2 linked regions of the Homo sapiens genome follow. The protein of the gene in region 1 purifies or fractionates together with the protein of each later gene. This does not show direct contact. Each region holds a gene or a part of one and is shown on either strand. Other genes may lie near its edges.

Region 1 (3,821 bases):
GGAAGCGGAGGCTGCAGTGAGCCGAGATCACGCCACTGCACTCCAGCCTGGGTAACAGAGCTCTGTCTCAAAAACAACAACAACAACAACAACAAAACCCAGAATATATAAGGAGCTCAAACAACTCTACGGGAAAAAAATCTGATAATCCAATGTTAAAAATGGGTGAAAGATCTGAATAGACATTTCTCAAAAAAAGACACACACAAGGCAAACAGGTTTATTTAAAGGTGCTCAACACAACTGATCATTAGAGAAATGCAAATCAAACTACAATGAGATATCATCTCACTCCAGTTAAAATGGCTTTTATACAAAAAGACAGGAAATAACAAATGCTGGTGAGTAAGTGGAGAAAAAGGAACCCTCGTACACTATTAGTGGGAATGTAAATTAGTACAACCACTATGGAGAATAGTTTGGAGATTCCTCAAAAAATTAAACATGGAGGTACCATATGATCCAGCAATCCCACTGCTAGGTACACACCCAAAAGGAAATCAGTATATCAAAGAGATATCTGCACTCCCATGTTTATTACAGCAGTGTTCACAATAGGCAAGATTTGGAAGCAACGATAAGTGACCATTAACAGATAAATAAAGAAAATGAGGTACATGTACACAATGGTGTACTAGCTGGACATATAAAAGAATGAAATCCTGTCATTTGCAACAACATGCATGTAACTAGAGCTCATTATGGTAAGCGAAATAAGCCAGGCACAGAAAGACAGACTTTGCATGTTCTCATTTATTTGCAGGAACTAAAAATTAAAACATGGAGATAGAGAGTAGAAGGATGGTTGTCAGAGGCTGGGAAGGGTGGAGGTGGCGGGGGTAAGAAGGAAAGTGGGGATGGTTAATAGATACAAAAAATATAAAGAATAAATAAGAAATAGTATTTGATAGCACAACAGGGTGACTATAGCCAATAATAATTATACATTTTAAAATAACTGAAAGAATTGAATTGTTTGTAACACAAAGGATACATGCTTGAGGTGATGGATACTCCATTTACCCTCATTATGCACTGCATGCCTATATCAAAATATCTCATGTACCCCATAAATATATACACCTACTATGTACCCATAAAAAATTTTTTTTAATCCTTTTTCCTCCTATTTTGACAAACCTCTAGTAAAAGGCTGGGGGGGTGGGCAGGAAGAATGAAACCATACAGATAATAAGGTTTAGGAAGAATGAAACTATACAGATAATAACGTTTTGGAAGAATAAAAGACTATCATCATGCTCTACTGGTAAGCATAATCCGCGAAGAAACAAAAGCTTCTAGGGACTAAAAAGGCTAGAAGGAAACTACAATTGTTAGGGGCAAGACACACAAATGATCAGTGAACATACCAGCAGTCAGGCAGCACTTCGGGGAGGGCTAATGTGGAAATGACATCAGAATAAAATGTTCTGCTTTTTTTACTAACCAACACGCAATCCTCTAAACTGAGGTGTATAGAAGACTCAAATAATCAGAAAACTGAACAAAATTATTCTCTTTAACATACGCAAATTTCAGCCAACATATATAAACAGAGAAGCATCATTCTCAAAAATTAAATCAAAATCACAAAGAGTATACAATAAAATGGTAAAAAAAAAAAAAAAAGATCATGTTATTTCATTTCCAAAGTTAACAAAAAGTTCCTTTTCATTACCACAGTCATACCTCACGAGGATCAAAGTAAGACCTGGCCAAAAGGTTCTCCAGATGAATATATCGCTCTGGCTGTGTTTGTTTTAACATGATCATGGGATCAGTCTGTCTCAAAAGTGACCTGGCAGCACCCAATTCACGGAGCTCTATCAATTCCAGAACAACCTGGACAATTAAAAAAAAACAAAAAAAACCCCAGATGTTTCAACACACCGTCTTATTAATATTTTTCGGTAAAATATCTAACACAGATATGGCCTGTCAAAGGATTTCCAATACCAGGAAGTGCCCCTTTCCATTTTCACTAGCAATTTCAGGTGGACTTGGTGGGCTTGGTGGCTCATGCCTATAATCCTAACACTGTGGGAGGCCAAGATGGGCGGATCACTTGAGGTCAGCAGTTCGAAACCAGCCTGGCCAACGTGGTGAAACAGACTCTCTACTAAAAATACAAAAAAAATTAGCTGGGTGTGGTGGTATATGCCTGTAATTCCAGCTACTTGGGAGGCTGAGGCAGGAGAATTGCTTGAACCCGAGAGGCGGAGAGTGCAGTGAGCCAAGCTCATGCTACTGTACTCTGGCCTGGGCGACAGAGCGAGATCTGTCTCAATAAATAAATAAATAATAATTTCAATCCTTCAAACTCTATCCTTCATTTTTATCTACCAATCTCCCCTCCTCTCAGGCTTCTTGCTCAGAATGTAGATGCCAAAGAAAGCTAAAGATGGGAATATACCCATGGGCTCCAGAGAAACCTTTCTCCAGTTACCAAAATTTTCTTTGGGAATTATTGAACTCATACGGATTGTAAAGAAACAAACTGCCCAGACACGGCAGCTCACACCTGTAATCCCAGCATTTGGGAGGCTGAGGCAGGTGGATCACTTGAGGTCAGGAGTTGGAGACCAGCCTGGCCAATGTGGTGAAACCCCGTCTCTACTAAACACAAAACTTAGCTGGGCGTGGTGATGCACGCCTGTAATCCCAGCTACTCGGGAGGCTGAGGCAGGAGAATCGCTTGAACCCCGGAGATGGAGGTTGCAGTGAGCAGAGATCGCACCACTGCACTCCAGCCTGGGTAACACAGTGAGACTCTGTCTCAAAAAAAAAACAAAAAAAAAAACCCGTAAACAAAAACCAAAAACCAATTTCACTACTTTTACTTCAAATTACAATCTTATTTCCAGAAAGTCTACTCTGCTGTTTTATAATCACAAATTTGTCTGATCTTTGTCCTAGGTTCTTGGCTTGGAGCTTCTTGGAATTTGACCAGTGATAGGGGTATCTTTGTTACTCCTGGGCCCCTTGAATCACACCTGGGTTTGTGCAAAGGAAATGGCTCAGGATAGGTAGGAGCTAGTTATCAGAAAGACTAACTATGTGATTAGAAAGTTGAGGCTCTCTCGTGCCTGTAATCCCAGCCCTTTGGAAAGTCAAGGCTGGCGAACTGCTTGAGCCCAGGAGTTTGAGACCACCCTGGGTATTATGGTGAGATCCTGTCTCTACAGAAAAATGCAAAAATTAGGCAGGCGTGGTGGTGCGTGCCTGTGTTCCTAGCTACTCAGGAGGCTGAGGCAGGAGGAAGGATTGATCCTGGAAATGGAGGATGCAGCAAGCTGTGATCTTGCCACTGCACTCCAGAGTGGGTAACAGAACAAGATCCAGTCTCAAAAAAAGGAAAGAATTTTAATTTGGGAAATCCTGGATTTTCCAAGAAGGGAGAAAAAATACAATGTCAAGCCTTGCCATTGTTGTATGGGCTGATGCAGCCCTACCGTGCTTGAAGGAATGCTCACTGACGCTTTTTAGTTGGGGAGCTGGCCCACAACGAACCAACCCATGGGGATCAGCATCACCACCACTCTTACCTGTTCATAGAGGTCAATGAGGGTTTTGTCTGGCAATTTCAGAGACTGTATAGCCTGCAACACAGTATCCCAATGGCCACTGTTAATGTCAGCCACAAAACTCTCAATGCTGTCCACAGTATTCAGAGACACAGTAGTCTCCTCCTGCAAGGTGGCTAACGCCCGATGTAAACTGTTCTCCTTCAAGTACTGCATAATAAGGCGGATCACACTGAAAGAAAACAAATCGTTCAGCTCAGGGATTCTCACTCACCAGAGGTCAAAAATAAAGCCTAT
Region 2 (3,821 bases), on another chromosome or scaffold:
CTCCTCAAACTTGAATTGGCCTGCAGAAGACAGGTATGCCAACTTCAATGACTCTGCTCTGCATCACTCTCTCGGTTGCCAAATTGAGGCAGAAACATCCATTTGCCTTCCTGTAGCTTTCTAAAATCTGTCTACAGTGTAATGAGTTGTCTATACACTTTCCCTTAGCCCAGTTTCAGTAACCTTGTAGTCCATTCGATACACAGAAATAGAGCACGCACCAACCTCAGCCACAGGCCCCTTTCTCTCCCAAGTTCAGGCACAGTACTGGCTAGAACTCTCACTAAAAACACAAACACCAAAACACAGTGTACATCAGATGCATATGGGGTAGTAATGCTTTTAACAGTTTGCTTACAGGAGCAGTTCTTCAACACTGATAACAACTGGCAAAACAACCTCAACATATGCTCTGCCTAGATAATGCAGGAGATCCTTAAATTTCTCCAAGTTAGAAAATTCAGGACAACAGCAATATGGTGTTAGAGACTTCAGATCTGTGTCAATCAGATATAGCCTTGCTGCCACCTAAAGATGTGCTCGCCACCCCACACATGGCTTTAGCAGCAGTTCCAAAGGCCAATGCATTCACTCTTGGAAGACAGTGTCAGCTGTCTTGACACTGCTGCTGGCTACATTTAACCAACTCTATGATGTGGTACCAGAGCCCAAGAAATACATCAAGCCAGATCATTCTGTCCAAACATCCCAAGGAAACATGTGCCTTGGACAGCACCTGAGTGGGAACAGGCTGCTAATGTTGATATAAAATGCAAAATAGTAAAAGTAGCATTTTCTCTAATTTACTATTCAGTGAGAAACCCATGCAGAAATCCAATGCAGCAAATTGTAGAGGTTCAATGCTCCCTGATCTGCAGTTAAGCCAGGTGTGCCACCTCCTTCATCTGACTTGGATCCTGCTCTGGACTTCAAGGAAACATCTACCTGGCTAGCAGTTCAAGGACTCGATATAAAAATAACTCATGCTTTGTTTCAACTGGAGGGTCATGACACTGTTGGGCCTACAGGAAAACCATTCATAAGTCAATGTAAGCTCATATCTACTGAAAGAGTAGATTTGAGTTTTTTGAGTAGATATGAGCTTTTACACCCTAAGTTACAATGAAAAGATTCACTGAAGAAGGATTCAATCATGCTGTACTACTTCCTGGAGTTGGCAGAGAAATCATCCATTTCTTGGTAGTTGAAAGAAGGCTGATCCAAGAACACAGTGAAGAGATGTTCCCATTTCTCAAGGTGTTTCATCTTCCTGGCCATGATGATTTAGCACCTGCAAAATTCCCAAACCTACGCAATGTGGTTAATGCGGGGAAGCAGACATTGGACTACCAACTTCCAAAGAGTCACTATCTCGACTAGCAGATCATGAGGTAGATGAGGCAGTTTCAAGACCTCCCTTGAAGAAGGCAGTGATGAATAAAGAAGAGGAGGATGGGTTATGAGCAGCATTTAGTGTGACATCTGAAGAGATCAAGATGCCACTATCAGACAAGAAAACCAATAACCAGACTAATTTCACACAGCTTCTTCAGGCAATGGAATCAAGAGATAGGATGCAGACTTAGAAAAAAAGAAAGAAAATTCAGCAGGAGTTAGAGGGATCTAAAGGAGTTGTATATTTATTGCCTTCTGTAAACCAGGAGTAAAGGAGATAATTAAGGTTTTAAATAATCCAGTTTCTTAGTCACCAAAAGTACCAAGACTTCCTCCTATTAATGAGGCTGAAGGCTCAGTTTAAGCTGTTCTCTGCCATCTGGCCCTTGTACTTGGGAGACTAAAGCCACTGTGGACATTTAAATGAGAGAGATTTGCACTCTCTCATTTTTCACAGCCTATGCTACAGCAATCATGACTACTTTTGGATAAAACAAAAGTTCCTTAAATAATATACTCATGGCATTTTTATTTTCTTTTCTTGTTCCTACACTGCCCAACAAAAAGAGTCTCTTCCAATGTCATTGAGTTTGCACCACATTCTAGAATAATAAATGGAACTGGATCATTCTGAGAACTATATTGTAAAAAGCAAATATTCTACTTTAAAGAACACACTTTTTTTGGTTTGTTTTTTAGACAGAGTCTCACTCTGTTGCCTAGGCTGGAGTGCAGTGGCATGATCTCAGCTCAAGTGATCCTCCCACCTCAGCCTCCCAAGTAGCTGGGATTACAGGCATGTGCCACTAGGCCTGGCTAATTTTTGTATTTTTTGTAGAGGCAGGGTTTCACCATGTTGCCCAGGCTGGTCTTGAACTCCTGGGCTCAAGGAATCCACCCACCTCAGCCTCCCAAAGTGCTGGGATTACAGGCATGAGCCACTAATACCCAGCCAAGAGCACACATTTAGGATAGAACTTGAGCATACTTTTGTTCTGGAAGAGGACAGAAATAGAGCAAGGGACAGGAAACAACAAACAAAACCCAGTAGCAGTGAGTTAGCTTCTGTCCCGTCTCCACCCTTGTAAGTAGGACACTGGCTTAACAATTAGTTTTATTATCAGCCCTCACTGTTTAAATCTTAGCAGAGAAAAAGAAAAGCTGTTGAAGAGAATAAAATTAAGAAACATAAAAAGGGAAAACTTGATTATCACCAGTTTCTGGATTTTTAGTTTTCTTCTTCTAACTGAAGTTCACTCAGATCTAGGGAATAGCATTAAGCTTAACGTGAAAGTGGGGGGAAAAATGTGGCACATTGAAGTGGCAGGTAGCTGTAAAGAGAAGAGGGAAGCATTTTTAAACTGTAGTAAGGTTTATCCGAGAGTGATTACTTTTATAAGGAAGAGATTCTATGAAAATGCAGCAAGGAGGCTGGTCCGTGGAGTACCACAAAGCTGGGGAACTGCAGTTTTCATGCTGATTCTCTATCTTTACCACTCTGGGTCAATTGTGGCAGAGAAGCTGTTTTATCTTCCTTGGGCATGGGAGAGGAAAGGAGGAGGGATGCATATGACTCAGTTTTTAAATCAGTACCTTACAGGGTTATTTAGTAAAGTGGTAAGGCTTCTGTAAAATGCTTTGAGTGACTAGGAAACAAATCAGAGGCAAAATAACAACATAAAATAATAACACCAAACATCAGAGAACTGAAGGGAAGAGGAGCGAGTCACTGAAAACCAGGGACACCAGTTGTCCAGGTCACCAACAGCTTCCTGGTGCTCCCCCACCCCACAGTCTGCTGTGAGCTCTTTCACCTAGAATGAGCCTAGAGAATGGCCTAGTGGGGCAAGGGACCTAGCACTGGCTCTCAGCCACAACTAACACCACATCCCAAATTACCCCTCCAGAACAGATGCCGAGGGACACTAGAAGCGAGGAGTAGTTGGGATACTTTTGCTACACCTTCTATCTTGAGAGAAAGAGATTTAAACCAATAGTATAATACATCAGTTGAAATACATCTGACGATAATAACAAAGATGCATTGACCTATAAAAAGTCATTTAATGCATATTCCAGATGGCCAATACAAGCTGGTTAGGTAATTAGCCCTTGAAGAATTCTTTTATAATCATATAAAAATGTTTTGTCTTGTTTAAAAAAAGTCTACTCTAACAAAAACATCCACCAATGGGCTTGCATTTTTTCCATTTGCAGGTTTGTAAGATCATAAAAATATACACATATGCATCTCTGGGCATATCTCTGTCCACTAGCTAATCAGTTTTGGCAATACACTGCATAGGGGTATACTACCATTGGTTTCTGACATTAAGTTAGCTTTAAGCTTATTGGCTATTCCAACAACTGGAGGCAGCTTAGAACCCAATCCCTGGAAAGCACTTGCAGGATTAACTACCCGTTTC

Evidence for each region.
Region 2: the proteins of SMU1 (region 1) and DYRK3 purify together in Homo sapiens (affinity purification with mass spectrometry, with the first as the bait; one study listed by BioGRID). This does not show direct contact.

The regions. Positions count from the first base shown.
Region 1 is NC_000009.12:33,070,051-33,073,871, forward strand, and holds part of SMU1 (WD40 repeat-containing protein SMU1), read right to left. Parts: intron 3,757-3,821; coding exon 3,546-3,756; intron 1,843-3,545; coding exon 1,690-1,842; intron 1-1,689. UniProt on the Homo sapiens protein: Involved in pre-mRNA splicing as a component of the spliceosome. Regulates alternative splicing of the HSPG2 pre-mRNA. Required for normal accumulation of IK.
Region 2 is NC_000001.11:206,648,812-206,652,632, reverse strand, and holds part of DYRK3 (dual specificity tyrosine-phosphorylation-regulated kinase 3), read right to left. Parts: coding exon 3,668-3,821; 3' UTR 1-3,667. UniProt on the Homo sapiens protein: Dual-specificity protein kinase that promotes disassembly of several types of membraneless organelles during mitosis, such as stress granules, nuclear speckles and pericentriolar material.